2 separate regions of the Homo sapiens genome follow, and region 2 is linked to region 1. A link means that fine-mapping ties the variant in region 1 to the expression of a gene that starts in the linked region. Tissue or cell type: whole blood. Region 1 holds a variant in brackets; the other region holds the start of a gene. All regions are shown on one strand. Distances are from middle to middle.

What was found. PIP is the estimated chance that this variant, and not a neighbour inherited with it, causes the effect.
Region 2: COA8 starts here. The variant in region 1 is fine-mapped to the expression of COA8 in whole blood (TOPMed, PIP 0.98).

The regions. Positions count from the first base shown.
Region 1 is chr14:103,272,704-103,280,803 of GRCh38, forward strand. It overlaps the pseudogene RAP2CP1. Among named protein-coding and RNA genes, the nearest start is that of EIF5, 57 kb to the right of the region's middle. The variant T/C (reference allele first, on the strand shown) is at 4,223.
Region 2 is chr14:103,559,222-103,567,321 of GRCh38, forward strand. COA8 (cytochrome c oxidase assembly factor 8) reads left to right here and starts at 3,739. Exons shown (of 5, transcript NM_001370595.2): 1 at 3,739-3,903. The coding sequence starts at 3,781. It overlaps BAG5 (BAG cochaperone 5), which reads right to left and starts at 3,436. Exons shown (of 2, transcript NM_001015048.3): 1 at 3,395-3,436; 2 at 1-1,971. The coding sequence starts at 1,943. The coding sequence ends at 600. RefSeq lists enhancers at 2,041-2,554, 2,654-2,703 and a silencer at 3,044-3,693.

The sequences.
Region 1 (8,100 bases):
TTACATCTTATACGGCACTATGTACGTGAGTAACGCTTAGCTTCAGTTTAAAAAATACAAGGACGGACACTGATTAAGAAAAGCAATTTTTGGCCGGGCGCGGTGGCTCACGCCTGTAATCCCAGCACTTTGGGAGGCCGAGGCAGGCAGATCACAAGGTCAGGAGATCGAGACCATCCTGGCTAACATGGTGAAACCCCGTCTCTACTAAAAATACAAAAACAAAATAGCCAGGTGTGGTGGCGGGCGCCTGTAGTCCCAGCTACTCGCGAGGCTGAGGCGGGAGAATGGCGTGAACCCGGGAGGCGGAGCTTGCAGTGAGCTGAGATCGCGCCACTGCACTCCAGCCCGGGCGACAGAGCGAGACTCTGTCTCAAAAAAAAAAAAAAAAAAAAAAAAAAAAAAAAAAAAAAAAAAAAAAAAAGGAAAGAAGGAAAGGAAAGGCAAGGAAAAGGCAAGGAAAAGGCAAGGCGGCGCAAGGCGGGGCAAGGCGAGGCAAGGCAAGGCAAGTGGGGCCTGTCCTCCACCTGGGCTCCAGCGGTGACACAGGACGTCCCGCCGCTTCCAGCTTCCGCGTACCTGCGCGCACACCGGGTCCCCCGCGGCCTCGCCCTCGTCCATGACCTCCAGAGCCCCGCGCCGCGCCCCCGCCCGATCCGCGGAGGCCTCCAAGCAGCCGATGCCCTCGCCAAGCCTGGGTGGTCCAGAAGGACGCGCCCGCTCCGGGGCGCAGAGCTCTTGAGGTCGTGGGCGGGCGCAGGGCCCCGGCGGATACTTGGCAGAGGCTTGGGGTCGTGGCGGGGGCGCCTCCCTTCCGGTGCGCGAAAAAGCAAACGCGACGCGCGGGCTGCAGAGACTGGGCCGGGCGGAGGAGACCCCCAGCCTGGGTTGAGCGGGGCGGATCTGGGACTCCGAGGCTTCCTACGTGGGGCGGGTTCCCAGCGGACGCCTCTGCCGCACCCCTGGCGGGGACCCAGCTGCGCCCCTTCCCGCGGCCCTCCTAGGGCCTGGGTGCTTGGAGGCTCGAGGCCCCAAGATCCATGTCGCCCGGAATCCCGGTGCCTAGGCCTTGTCGCGGGCCCTGGGACCAACTCGCGGGGGTCAGGAGCTGGGGGTTGAGAGAAAGATGATCAGGTGGGTTGGAGAAAGGAGACGCTTCCCGCTGGGCGAGTGAGCCCAGGACGCGGCAGAAGAGGGCAGACCCTAGGGGACCGCCGCGTCCCCAGGCGCGCACGCGACCCCTCCCCGCGCCGAAAATCCTCTCCCCGCCTCAGTCTCCCCGCCTCCGCCTCCCCACCCATAGTGTCACTCCGACCCTAGCCCTGGGTCCAAACGGGCAGGAGAGGTCGCTGGTGCCTCCGCGGTCCCCGCCGCGCGCAGAACTCGGCCGAGTGCACCGGGGTCTCCTGGCCTCTGCGCGCAGCTGGTCCTGCAGCGTCAGGACCCGAACGACCCCGAGGCCCCAGGGGCTGGGCCCTCCAGCAGCCCCGCAGCAGCCCCGCAGCAGCCCCGGCAGGCACCCTCCAGCGGCCGTGGGCGCCTGGTAGCTATGGAGGCGGTAGAGGTGGAAACCAGGCCTCTGTCTTCACACAGGAGGAACTCCAGGCCCTCGTTTAGGACTCCAGGCCAAAGGCTGTGTCAGCCGCGGGTCCCCCGCCACCCCACGCGCACAGGCGCAGGCCTCACACCGCGTGCCCGACGACGCCCCGAGGGGCCCCGGTCGCAGTTAGTTTGAAGGGAATCGGTGGTACAGATCGTGGCTTGGAGAACGCGGCTTGACCTGCGGCCAGAATCAGACTCATTCCGAACACGCGGCGGCCCTGGCCCAGCTGGCCCCTCCCACGCTCCCGCGGGGATTCTCCTGCAGCCGGAGCCCCTCCCCCCACTCGTGCCCTCTTCCCATCAAGCCCTGGTCCCCAGGTGACCGGCATAGGAGACTCCTGTCCCTTCAGGCGAAGCCCAGCGCCTCCCTCTTCGGGTGGTCTCGCCTTTTGGCTTCAAGAAGTCAATCTCAGACAGTCTAGTTTGTTCAGCTTGCATGAATTTTAAGGTATTTTAAGAGCACTTTTCTTTATATTTTGATAACATTTATTTCTTAAAATTACAAATGCAGTATATTCTGGTTTTGAAATCAGTTCATAGTAGGAGATGTTCAAACAAAAGAATAACCAAACAACCAAGTAAATTACTGAGTCGATCATGGGAGCCACCATTTTTTCTCCAGCCTTTTTTTTTTTCCAGAATGCCTTTTCCTACCAGATTTTATATAATTTAATGTTATCCCTCCCCCCAAATAATTTTTAATAAAAATCAAAAAGAACCACCATCACTGTTTACAACTTGTTTTTTAAAAATATTGAAAACCACCCCCTACCTCCACCCTCCACTTCCAATCCCCCAGGAGTAACTAGTAGTAACATTTTCCAAATATACATATCTATATTGATAAATATGTGACCTTATTTTACATATTCTTATGAGGTGACTGTTCAGGTCTCTTGCCCATTTTTATATTCAGCTGTCTTTTTCTTATTGGTATGTAGTTCTTTCTATATTCTGGATAGGAATACTTTGTCAGTAATATTGGACTGCAAATCTCTTCTCCAACTGTGCAGTTTGCCTTTTTACTCTGTCAATGGTGTCTTTTGATTAAGAGAAACTCTCAGTGTTAACATAATCAAATGTATTATCCTTTCCTTTATGATCAATGCTATGGTCTATGTAATAAGCACTTCTCTTCCCAGAGTTCATGAAAATCTTCTGTTATGTTATCTTCTCTAACCCTTGTTGCTTTGCCTTTTGCAGCTAGAGCTACCATATATCTGGATTTTGTTTTTGTATATTAAGTTTTCTTTGTGTCCACCATCTGTTGATCAACCATCCTATTACATTTGTTGAAAGGACCATTCTTCCCCTACCATCATTAGGCAGTGCCCTCTCTGTTCTATTTGTCTGTCTTTCTACACTATTTGCTGTCGCTTTATTGTAAATCTTATAACTTTATTGTAAATCTTGATGCCTCTGGTGGACCAAAATCTTCCCACCTTATTATTCTTTTTAAAGAATATTTTGCCTAACTTTGGTCCTATGCATCTCTATACAAGCTTTAGAATCAGCTTGATGGACTGCAATCAAAATACTTGCCAGAATTTGATTAGGATTACATTGAAGCAAATTGGTTTCAGAAAAATTAACATATTTTAAATATTGAGTCTTTTAATCCATGAACATGTTTGTCTGTTTCTCTTTAATCTATCACAATAATGTCTCATAGTTTTCTGCATAGAAGTCATGTACATCTTTTGTTAGATTGTTACCTAGGTATTTGCTGTCTTTTGATGCTATTAAAATGCATTTTTATTTTGCTCTTGCTTGTTATTTTTGTATTGTTGGTCTATAGAGTTGCAAATGATTTTTATGTGTTGGCTTTGTAACCAGCAACCTTGTTAAACTCTCTTATTCATTTTAACAATTTATGCCAGGCACAGTGGCTCATGCCTGTAATCTCAGCACTTTGGGAGGCCAAGGTGGGAGGACTGCTTGAGCCCAGGAGTTCCAGACTGGCCTGAACAACATAGTGAGACTCAGTCTCTACAAAAAAAAAAAAAAAAAAAAATTAAGTTAGCCAAGCCTGGTGGCACACGGCTGTGGTTCCAGCTACTTTGGAGGCTGAGACGAGAAGATCACTTGAGCCAAGGAGGTCGAGGTTGCAGTGAGCTATGATCGTGCCACTGTGCTCCAGCCTGTGTGACACAGCAAGACTCTCTGTCTCAAGAAAAAAAAGAAATACTAGATTTTTCACCTGGTTAGATGATTAAAAAACAAAGAAGAAAGAAAAAGAAAATGTAAAAAGAAAAAATTATTAGACATTTTTATATTTTCAATGAACATATATCAGCTACATAATGAGAGTATTATGCCTTTTGTTTCTTTTCCTGGCCTTAGTCACATTGTTGAAAACCTCAGTGCAGCGTTAAGTAGAAGTGGAGATAGTGGGAAACTTGACAAAAGTGTGTATAATATTTATTATGTACGGTATGATATTTACTAGAAACTTCCTGTATCTATCTTAAATAGACTGAGGACATTTTCTTTTATTCCCAGGTGGCTAACAGTCTTTTTGTCATGAATGGATGTTGAATTTTATCAAATGCTTTTCCCACAGCTACTCAGATGGTCATATGATTTTTCTTTTCTATTCTTTTACATGACCATTTAAATT[T/C]ATTTTTAGCATATTAAGTTAATCTTACATCCCTGTGTTAAAGTCCACTTAATCGTAGTGTGTTATCTTTTTTAATTTAACACTGAATTTATTTTATTTAGGATTTTCACACCTGTGAATGTGTGAGTGTATGTGAGACTGGCCTGTAAATTTCCTTTTTCATGATGTCCTTGTCTGATTGATAGCAAGGTTACCCTGCTCTCATAAAACAAGTTCCCTCTTTTTCTAGTCTCTGAGAGAGGTCTTTTCTTTTTTGTAAAATGAACTCTTTTTTTCTCCCTTAAATGTTTGTTACAATTAATCAGAGAAGACATTGGAACCTACAGCTTTCATGTGGGAAGTTTTTAATTATATACTCAATGTATTTAATAGATATGGAACTATTCTGATCTGTTACTTTAATTTTAGCTTAATTAGTTATATATTTTAGGAGTTTTTTCTTTTCATCTAAATTTTCAAAGACCCAACATCTGGCTTTGTTGATCCTCTCTGTTCTTGTTTTCAAATAATTTGTGCTTTATTTTATTTTTTCTTTTCTTTTCTTTTTTTTTTTTTTTTTTTTTCTTGCTAGAGACAGGGTCTTGCTCCATTGCCCAGGCTGGAGTGCAGTATCAGAATCTCAGCTCAGTGCAGCTTTGACATCCTGGGCTCAAGAAATCCTCCCACCCCAGCCTCCAGAGTAGCTGGGACTGGGACTACAAATGCATACCACCTTGTCCAGCTAATTGTTATTTACTTTCTTCTACTTTATTTGGAATTAATTTACTGGATATTTTTCTTCCTTTTTTTTTTTTTTTTTTTTTTTCGAGACAGCCTAGGCTGTCGTCTAGGCTGCTGGAGTACAGTGGCACAATGACAGCTCACTGCTGACTTGACCTCCCTGGGCTCAGGTGATCCTCCCACCTCAGCCTCCTGAGTAGCTAGGACCACAGGCATGCACCACCATGCCCAACTAATTTTGTATTTTTTGTAGAGATGGTGGTGTGGTTTGGCCGTGTCCCCACCCAAATCTCATCTTGAATTGTAGTTCCCATGATCCCTGTGTGTCATGGGAGGGACCCAGTGGGAGGTAATTGAATCATGGGGGCGGTTACCTCCATGCTGCTGTTCTCAGGATAGTCAATGAGTTCTCACAAGAGCTGATGCTTTTATAAGGGGTTTCCCCCCCTTTTGCTCAGCACTTCTTCCTGCCCCCATGTGAAGAAGGACTTGTTTGCTTCTCCTTCCACCATGATCGTAAGTTTCCTGAGGCCTGCCCAGCCCTGCGGAACTGTGAGTCAGTTAAACCTTTTTCCTTTATAAATTACGCAGTCTCGGGTATTTCTTCATAGTAGCGTGAGAACAGACTAACATAGACGTGGTCTCACTATGTTGCCAGGGCTGGTCTCGAACTCCCTGGGCTCAAACGATCTACCCACTTCAGCCTCCCCAAGTGTTGGGATTACAGGTGTGAGCCATCTCACCCTGCCTCCTTTCGACTTCTCGAGATGAATATTTATCTCACTGATTTTTTTGGCTCCTCTTCTTTTCCATTATAAAAAATGTGAAACTGAAATTTGCCCCTAAAAATGGCTTTAGCTGCTTCTCACAGATTTGATGTATGCTTGTTTTTCCTTTTTTTCTTTTTTTTTTTTTTTCTTTTGAGACGGAGTCTCGCTCTGTCGCCCAGGCTGGAGTGCAGTGGCGCGATCTCAGCTCACTGCAAGCTCCGCCTCCCGGGTTCCCGCCATTCTCCTGCCTCAGCCTCGCGAGTAGCTGGGACTACAGGCGCCCGCCACCACGCCCGGCTATTTTTTGTATTTTTAGTGGAGACGGGGTTTCACCGTGTTAGCCAGGATGGTCTCGATCTCCTGACCTCGTGATCCGCCCGCCTCGGCCTCCCAAAGTGCTGGGATTGACAGGCCTGAGCCACCGCGCCCGGCCAACTTGTTTTTCTTTCTCACTGGAGCTGGTTCCAGATTAGATCTGGTCGGACCCGGCAGGCACCTGGCGGGCACTGTGCGGGCAGGGAACCAGGGAGAGCAGGAGGGCGCGGGTCCGGGCCAAGGCTGGCGGGGGTCGCCGCGGCGCGACCGCCTCCTCCGCCCCGGCTCCGTGGGATGCGCGTCCGCCCTCCCAGGCCCCTTCCTCCCGCCCTCCCCCGCCCCCCGTTTTCCTCCCCTCCCCTCCCGACCCGCCCCAGGCCAGACCCCCGCGCGGGTCCTCGCCCTCCCAGGACCCTTCCTCCCTCCCCTCCCCTCCCCGCCGCGTCCCGGACCCTGCGGGCTGGTCCCGCGCCCCGCCAGGGCTGCCGGGGTGTGCTGCTGGGGAGCGTGGAGTGGGCAGGACCACGCTGGACACGCAGTTCGCGTGCGGCCGCTCCCCGAGCAGTGCGCGGCGTGGGCGGAGGAGCGGCTCCGCGAGGAGATCGAGGCGAACGCGGCGCCCGCGTTGCTGGAGGTCGTGGACGCGGCGGGCGCCGAGCACCTGGTCACGCTCCAGGACCTGGACATCCGCCACGGCGACGGCTCCGCGGTGCTCCCGGGCGTGTGCAGCGAGGCCTCGTTCCGGGCCGTGAGGCCGCCGAGCAAGCGCCTGCGCCGGCCGTGGGAACCCGGGGCCGTCCCGCGGGTGCTGGTGGGCACCCAGGCCGACCCGGACGACGGGCGCCAGGTGCTGACGGCGCGGGGCCGCGAGGGGCGCTCCCCGTTCCCGGAGGTCATGGCCAAGAGCCAGCGGATGGTGGACCGGGTGTTCATGCAGGCGGTGCGCGAGACGGAGGCCTTGGTCCCGCCCGAGGAGGAGGTGGAGTGTTGGGAAGTTTTCTGTTGTCCCCTGGACTCCATCCAGAAAAAGATGGCCCTGGTGGCAGCCTCGAAGCGCGGGGAGGGAGGCTAGGACTGGGGCCGCGTCGGGAACTGAGCCTGCCGGGACGCTTCTAACCCGCGCGCTGCCTCGAGTCCCTCCGGTGCCCAGGCCTTGTTCCCCAAGACCCACGGGTGCAGAGCAGAAGCGCGGCCCCAGCGCCCGAGGCCTGAAAGCTGTTCTTTACCTTCGCAGCTTTCCAAGTTACTATAATAGGTAAAAGGCAAGGGCTAACGTCTTAAGTATTTAATCGATTTCCTTATGCAGATTCTGCACTCGTAATTACTAAACGTGAGAGCCCAGGATGAACTATTCGGTGCATTTTTTATTTTTTTGAGACTGTCGCCAGGCTGGAGTTCAGTGGCGATCTCGGTGATCTCAGCTCACTGCAACCTCCGCCTCCCCGGTTCAAGCGATTATCCTGCCTCAGCCTCCCAAGTAGGTGGGACTACAGGCATGTGCCACCACGCCCGGCTAATTTTTGTATTTTTAGTAGAGACGGGGTTTCACCATGTTGGCCAAGATGGTCTCGATCTCTTGACCTCGTGATCCGCCTGCCTCGGCCTCCCGAAGTGCTGGGATTACAGGCGTGAGCCACGGTGCCTGGCCTATTGGGTGCATCTTAAAGCAGCGATATACAGGATAGTAAATGGAAACGGAAACGACTACTTCTGTATTTTAACTAACAACAGTGATTCATTCTGTTGGCAGTTTTTCTTCTTTAAAAGATGCCTTACTGCTTTAAGCCTGAATGGGCAGAATGTGCTTTCTTCAAATGCAATTTGTGGTATGTTTTTTTGAACTACCTGGTTCTGAGAATTACAGTTTGGATTTGGAGCACTTCGCCGAAGTTTAGATCTTAGTTCCATGAAGTTTCCATCTCATTTTCAGTGATGAATTGAGCAATCACTTTTTCCTTTCTGTGTGGTCCTAAATATAGTTACGACCTACTTAGCACAACCTTGCAATTGGATATGTGTCGCTGGCAAATTAATTTTATACCTAAAGTGAGCCCAGCGCTGGCTGTCAGTTTT
Region 2 (8,100 bases), 290 kb after region 1:
AAAACGTAGAGGATGGGGAAAATGCAGATGCTGTTTTTCCAACTAAAAATGTTTACAAAAGAACAGACTGTCTGAACAAACAAAAAAACCCCACCCCGTTAAGCTGGGTAGGACCAATCAGGCCTTATAAGTGAAAAAAAAGCCTTCTATCGAGCATAATGAAACAGAACATGTACTGCTTGTGTTTGAACCTTACTCTTATTTAACCAAAAATTTCCCCTTTCTCATAATTTTCCTAGTATTATGTAAGGTTATGCCTAGTTCTAGATTCTGAAAGACCTGCATTTTAATGCTTGCACAACCCATTTAAAATCTACAAAAGCTGCCTCTATTTTGTTTTCTGATTAAAAACGCAAAAAAAAGGACAAACCAAACAAACCACACCACATCATACAGATAATGATCCGAATGGAAAAGTTAACGTGCTGTAATGATATTTGTCTTGCAACATCAAAAGCAGCAGATACTGAATAGAATTTGCTTCAATCATAAATACTGAGACTGAAATATGCACGTATAAATCAATGAACTGAAAGCTCTCTATACATAGAAGCACATATGAAGTGCAAAACAGTATCAAAAGTGAGATCTCTGGTATTTCAGTACTCCCATTCATCAGATTTCAGGTCGAGATAGCTGAGAATATTCTGCGCAAGCCTCACAGCTTGTTTCCTGGCAGCCTTACACTTCTCTTCTCCCTGCGGATCAACAGCATCCAGGGCTAGCAGCTGCTTGGTGAGCAGCTCTTCCAGCCGGATGTAGTTCTTATCGGTTCGATTTCCATCAAATGAAAGAACTTCTCCCTGGATCTCAGACAAGTTTCCAAGGACGTTCCAGACGGCTTTATGGGATGGGTGCTCCTCACAAGCAAACAGCTTTCTTTTCTCAAGGGCCTCCTTCAAGTCAATATATGTGATCAGAGTTTGCACCTCGATCACTGCTCTTCTCCTGGCTTCCCGGATGCAGGGGTTTTTTTCAAGACTTACCTCATCCAACTGTCCAATTAAACCCTGCAATTCTGTTTTGGAGCTCAGGTACAATTCAGAAGGGTTTTGTGCTTGGAGAAGTTCATTTTTTATTTCTCTCATTCTCTTGAGGACCTTTTCTATTTTTAAAATGGAATGATTCTGTCTCAGGTCAAATGCTTTAGTTGTGTCTGCTTCCTCTTCCAAATCCAGATATTTCAATAATTTGTTGATATCTTCTACTACCTCCCTCCGATAATTTCTGATTTCTGTCCGGCCGCACACATCTAGAGCATCCAGGTCAGCGATCAGCCCCGAGAGCACACAGGATAAGTGCCTGCAGGTCTCATTGTTGTTCACACCCATCAGAAGTGCAATCAGGACCCCTCGGGCCTTGTTCACCTCACACATCACGAAGTTGATTTTGGCAACGGAAGGATGTGCATCCTCGGAAAGCGGCAGGGAAGGCTGCTTTTTCATGCAGTCTTCGATTATCTCTTGCACCGCACAGATTTTGGTTAAAGTGTGATACCTTGCTTTCCGCAAGGAGATTTTTCCTCCAGTTTTAACATGTGTCAGCCTCAGAATGATATCTTGGATGCCTTCTTCAAACTCATCAGTTACGCAGTTGCCTCCATTATAAAATGGCACAATTTTCTCTCTCACGAGGGACTGGGCTTCCTCAAAAATGTTCTGTATTTCAATCCGGTGTGGGTGGTTTGCATTCTGCTCCAACTCTTTGAGAAGACGTTCTGTCTCCTGTGCTGCCCGCTTCCTAGCTTGCTGAATATCTCCTTTTCCTTCAGTATCTACAGAGTCTATTTCAAAAAGCTGTTTTGTTAGAATCCTCTCCAGTTTCTTGTAATTCTTGTCATCTGACAGACCACTGAAGCCGATAACTTGCTGTTCTACACTTTTTACTTCCTTTTGGATTTCCTGAAGCCTACTAATAGAAGGATGTTGGTTTCCCATATCCATACTTTTGTTGTGTTCAGTTTCACAAGCACTAAAAGACGACAAGAATGATAACTTACTACAGCACAAGGCTTCTGCAGAACACTAATGGTATATTAAGTCATTCTAAAATTCTCATTTTAAAAAGGTATACTTCTGAGCAGTCATCCCACCTCAGCCTCCCCAGTAGCTGGGTCTACAGTCGTACACCACTACGCCCAGCTAATGTTATTTTTAGTAGAGACAGGTCTCACTATATTGCCCAGGCTGGTCTCAGACGATCCGCCCGCCTCCGCCTCCCAAAGTGCTGGGATTAAGGTGTGAGTCACCGTACGCGACACAAACTATTTGGAACCAGCAGGGCACCTTTATGAAAGGTGAAACAGTAGCTCTTGTAACCTTCCGAACACTAACAGTACCCCGCCCCGCCACACAGCTATGCCTAGTTTCCAGAAACTCTAAGCAAAAGAAAGAACCAGAACAAAAACCAGTGGCTCTCAGACATCCCCAAGGTCCCCGCTTCTTCGTTTCTCTCCATCCCTTTGTGCACTTCCCCTCCCCACCCTTTTAGCTCCTCACACATCTTCCCTCACAGAAGTCTCCCTGAAGAGATTAAAACCCCACAGGTAAAGAAGAGCGACCGGGACAGCGCTGAAGGGCACCACCTTGGGCTTTCGAGGCCCAACACCTCCTCAGCCCCCAACATGCTCCACTCTCTCAAAAAAAAACAACCCGCGAAAACGTGGTAACTATGAATAATTCATTCACTCGCCTCCCACTGGGAGTCCACAATGGCCTAATGCACGTTTCAAGCTCTTGGTTTCTATCAAACGGCTCGCTCAAGGTGGGTAACCAATGGAAACGCATAATCTATCCCCGGCGGATGTCCTGGAGGCCACGGAGGGAAGGCGGCCCGAGCTGCTTCCTCCCCGCCTCGCCCTTCCCTCTTGGCCCTTTACCCAAAAGAAGTCTGAATTGGATGCGGTCTTGGCGTCCCGTGGCTGAGGTGGCGAGGTGGAAGATCAGCCCTTTACGGGGTGCGGCACCGGAGCTGGGCCCCCAGCTGCATGCCTCGCACCCCTCCCGACTAGGTCTGAGCGGGGCAGCCGGTGAAGGGGCCGCTACTGGCTGCAGCAGCCGCTCCGGGCGTCTTGGCCCGGGTGCCAGGGCGCGCCTGCAGGACGTGACCTCACAATGGGCGCGCGAGGGGAGCTCGGCCCGGCCGGGGGAAGCCGGGGGAGGAGGGGAACCGAGGCCCGGCCGGAGACACCAGAGACCAGGCCCGGCCAGCCCCGGTCGCTTCCGACCCCAGGGGCGGGGACAGCGCCGAGACCGACTCTGCCCTGCCTGATCCGACAGGCCGCACGGGGCTGGGCGCTGGCGAAGGGGTGGCCCAGCGGGGAGCCCCGCGCGGAGGTGGTGCCCCACTCGTCCCCCCGAGAGAGGGAAAAGGCTACAAGCCGCGCTTCGCTCACCTGTCCCGCCCGCGCCATCGCGCGATGCGTCGCCGACGCTTCCACGACTTCCGCAGCTCCGGCAGTCGCCCGGGCCCGGCAGCCCCGCCCCTGGCCGAACACCCCTAAACCCGGGGACACCTCCTCCGGCGTCCGCGCCTAGCCGCCGGCAGCGCCACGCCCACCGCCAGCGGCGCAGCGAGGCAGCCTGGAGTGACCGCGACCAAGGAGCGGCCGCCCGGGTCAGCCCGCGCCGCCCGCCGCCCCCTCACCCCGTCGCACCGCTGGGAAAGCGCACGGTCGGCCGCGCCGCCGCGCTTCCTCGGGCTTCGCGACCCTGCCGTAAAGCGGCCCCTCGCGCCGTCGCAATGCTGCCGTGCGCCGCGGGAGCCAGGGGGCGTGGGGCCATGGTGGTCTTGCGGGCGGGGAAGAAGACCTTTCTCCCCCCTCTCTGCCGCGCCTTCGCCTGCCGCGGCTGTCAACTCGCTCCGGAGCGCGGCGCCGAGCGCAGGGATACGGCGCCCAGCGGGGTAAGCAGGGGCCTGGGGACATTGGGCCGGGAGGGGTGACCGGAAGGGAAGACAAACCCGGGCCTCGGGGCCACTCCCTGTTCTGCACAGCCGCCTCAGGCCTTTGTCCAGGTGCTCTCGCGTCCTATCCCGAACAGTCCCGCAGCCCCGAGGCTCCCGCATCAACGCCCTCAGTCGGATGGGACTGAGGGTGCCGCCGCCACCACGCCGGGGACTGTTGACAGCCAGAACCTTTAAGCGTAACAGAGTCACCTGGCAAGTTTGTACCTACCTTATTTGTTCCCGAGAATGATTATTTTTTATTTTTAAAGAGCTCTTGGCTTACCGTGCGTTTTTTTTCGTTGTGTGTGTGTGTGTTTTGGCTTTGTTACAATTATTAGTGCTTTTCTTCAAGCGGCGAGCACTTTATCATCGTACTTTTGTAGCACTTCACGTTGAATAGTTGTTATTTGCAAACTATGTGTGGGTATATGCATGTTACTGGCCAAAGATCCGCAAAGAATGTCTGTAGCAAGAATGTCTGTGGCAAGCAATTTTTATAAGTGGTACTTTTGGGAGGGATGTTTTGTTTAAGGGAGGCCTAGGCCTTGATTCCGTCTGTCAGATGAAAATGTTGACTAACGGTGTGGAATGGGCTGGAGATAAAATATTCAAGCAAAGCATGCAAATACCAAACAGGCTAATGAAGGAGGCTGGAAAACTTGGTTTAAACAATAATTAAAGAAGTATTAAAAAAGTGTTAATTAAAAATTGGACGGGCTCCGTGGCTCACGCTTGTAATCCCAGCACTTTGGGAGGCCGAGGCAAGCGGATCACGAAATCAAGAGGTGAGACCATCCTGCCCAACATGGTGAAACGTCTCTGCTAAAAATACAGAAATTAGCTGGGCATAGTGGCGCGCGCCTGTAGACCCAGCTACTCGGGAGGATGAGGCAGGAAAATCGCTTGAACCCGGGAGACGGAGGTTGCTGTGAGTCGAGATCGCGCCACTGCACTCCAGCCTGGCGACAGAGGGAGACTTCATCTCAAAAAAAAAAAAGCTAATTAAAAATTGCAAATGTACTTGCTTGTACATTTTCATTTCTGTTGGGCTGTGGCTGTTAGTACACTTTCATAATTGTAGCTTTGAAGGTCTATCTAGTTTACAATTTAAACAAGGAGTTACCAGGGCAACTTGCCAACCAGACACCCAAGTGGCTAGCTCAGTTCTGTGTTACAGTGACCAAGTCCTTGCCTTCTATCCCTAGAACATAGAAACCCACCCAGCATCTCTATCTTTGGGCAGAAAGATAGAGCAGGTGTCTGAAAATGCTCTAAGAGAGCAAACGGGAAATCAACCAAGACATTTCCCGGGCGGGGGGGATTTTCCCTAGCTTATTTTGTGAACTTGTGCTGGAAAGAAACAACAGCACCCAAATAAGGATTTCTCTATTGTCATATACACTTCTTTTTTTTTTTTTTTTTTTTTTTTTTGAGTTGGAGTCTCCCTCTGTCGCCCAGGTGGGAGTACAGTGGCGTGATCTCAGCTCACTGCAACCTCTGCCTCCCGGGCTCAAGCGATTCTCGTGCCTCAGCCTTCCGAGTAGCTGGGACTACAGGGGCCCACCACCATGCCCGGCTAATTTTTTTGTATTTTTAGTAGAGACAGGGTTTCACCTGTTGGCCAGGCTGGTTTCAAACTCCTGACCTCAAGTGATGCGCCTGCCTGGGCCTCCCAAAGTGCTAGGATTACAAGTGTGAGCCACCACTCTCAGCCTTAGACTTCTTGTTAAAGTAAAATAAATCTTACCATGGGTCTGTTCTCAAGATGAGAGACCTCTCTGCCTTGTTCGTTTTTTCTTTTTTCGAGATGGAGTTTTTGCTCTGTTGCCCAGGCTGGAGTGCAATGGCGCAGTCTCGGCTCACTGCAACCTTTGCCTACTGGGTTCAAGCAATTCTCCTGCCGCAGCCTCCTGAGTATAGCTGGGATCACAGGCGCATGCTGCCACGCCTGGTTAATTTTTTTTTCTTTTTTTAGTAGAGATGGGGTTTCACTATGCTGGCCAGGCAGGTCTCGAACTCCTGACTTCAGGTGATCCACCCGCCTTGGCCTCCCAAAGTGCTGAGATTATAAGTGTGAGCCACCATGCCCAGCCAGCACCAGCTTTTAATTGAAAAATATTATAGAACTTAAGAGTCAGGCACCATTCTTCCTTCCAAATCCATCTTTAAAACTCAGCTTTTCAGAAATATAACTGCTTTTGGTAAAGAAAAAAAAATTAAGACTTTTAAATTCTGTTCCCTAGCCACTTCATGCCTGCTTATGTCTTACCTATGTAGTTTGCATCATTGGTTCCTAAACTTGTTTGCACGTAAGAATTAGTCTGACTCTTTTAGTTCTTTTTTTTTCTTTAATCCGGAAGTTCCTGAACCAGAATAGGTTCAGAGATACTCCCTTTTAGTTCTTTTTAATCCATAGGTTCTGCCTCCATCACCTCCCCACCTTTTTTTTTAATTTTTTTTTTTTTTTGAGATGGAGTCTTGCTCTGTCACCCAGGCTGGAGTGCAGTGGCGTGATCTCAGCTCACTGCAACCTCCACCGCCCGGGTTCAAGCAATTCTCCTGCCTCAGCCTCCTGAGTAGCTGGGATTACAGGTGCCTACCACCATGCCCGGCTAATTTTTGTATTTTTTGTAGAGACGGGTTTCACCATGTTGGCCAGGGTGGTCTTGAACTCCTGACCTCAGGTGATCTGCTCACCTCAGCCTCCCAAAGTGCTGGGATTACAGGTATGAGCCACTGTGCCTGGCCCAAAGTCACTTTTAGCTTCAAAAATGAGCTGTAGGGTATGCCTTCTTTTCCTGTTTCCGTGGATTGTTTACTAAGGTTTGAATTTTTCTGTGACTGGTAGAACCTACAAGTCATTTGAACCTGAGTTTTCATAAGAACAAGCCATTTTAACCCCATCTTCTTTTTGGTTAGAGTTTAACCCCATCTTCTTTCTGGTTAGAGTTACTAAACTGGTAAATAAGAGTGATCCGGCCAGGCATGGTGGCTCACACCTTGCCAGCACTTTGGGAGACTGAGGCAGGCAGATCACCTGAGGTCAGGAGTTCAAGACCAGCCCGGCCAACATGGTGAAATCCTGTCTCTACAAAAATACAAAAATTAGCCGGGCATGATGGTGGTACCTGTAATCCCAGCTAGTTGGGAGGCTGAGGCGGGAGAATCGCTTGAACCCAGGAGGCAGAGGTTGCAGTGAGCCGAGATCGCGCCATTGCACTCCAGCCTGGGCGATGGACCAAGACTCATTCTCAAAAAGAAAAAAAAGAGTGAGCCATTGCATATTGATTTAAACAAGACATCTGATAAAGTCTCATGTATTTTTGAAAACCGTGTCCTGTATTGTGGTGCTTAAAACACCAATGGAAACATTTGTCTCAGGGTGGTTGGCATTTCCTGCACAGGTTCTTCATGAGGTGCCAGAGATACAGAAATGAATGTGTGTGCCTCTTTTCACACATGCACAGATGGCTCTCCAGGCAGGAGCTCTGCATGCTAACACATGCCTCCCTGGTGCCTAGAGCAGTGCTTGGCCTTTGCATGGTGGTGCAGGGGCAGGCAGGTTGATGCTTATGGAGAATGGCTGAATCCACCATGTCCATCTTTGGAATCTATCAGAAGTTTATTGTTTGCAGCTCCAGGCAGGGTCTCCTGAGGATGCAAGGGAGCACCACCCTGGGCCTGCCTGTTGGGCACCTAACTTCTGAGAGGAGGAGGGTTGGAACAAGTCCACAAATAACCATATTTTTCCCTTTTTTGGACATAGGGTCTTGCTCTGTTGCCCAGGCTGGAGTGCAGTGGCACAAACATAGCTCACCACAGCCTCAACCTCACTGGCTCAAGTAATCTTCCTGCCTCAGCCTCTTTAGTAGCTGGGGCTACAGGCATGTGCCACCGCACCTGGCTGATTTTTAAAATTTTTTTGGCAGGGCGCGGTGGCTCGTGCCTGTAATCTCAGCACGTTGGAAGGCCGAGGCAGGTGGATCATCTGAGGTCAGGAATTCAAGACCAGCCTGGCCAACGTGGTGAAACACCGTCTCTACTGAAAATACAAAAATTAGCCGGGCGTGGTGGCGCATGCCTGTAATCCCAGCTACTCGGGAGGCTGAGGCAGGAGAATTGCTTGAACCTGGTAGGCGGAGGCTGCAGTGAGCC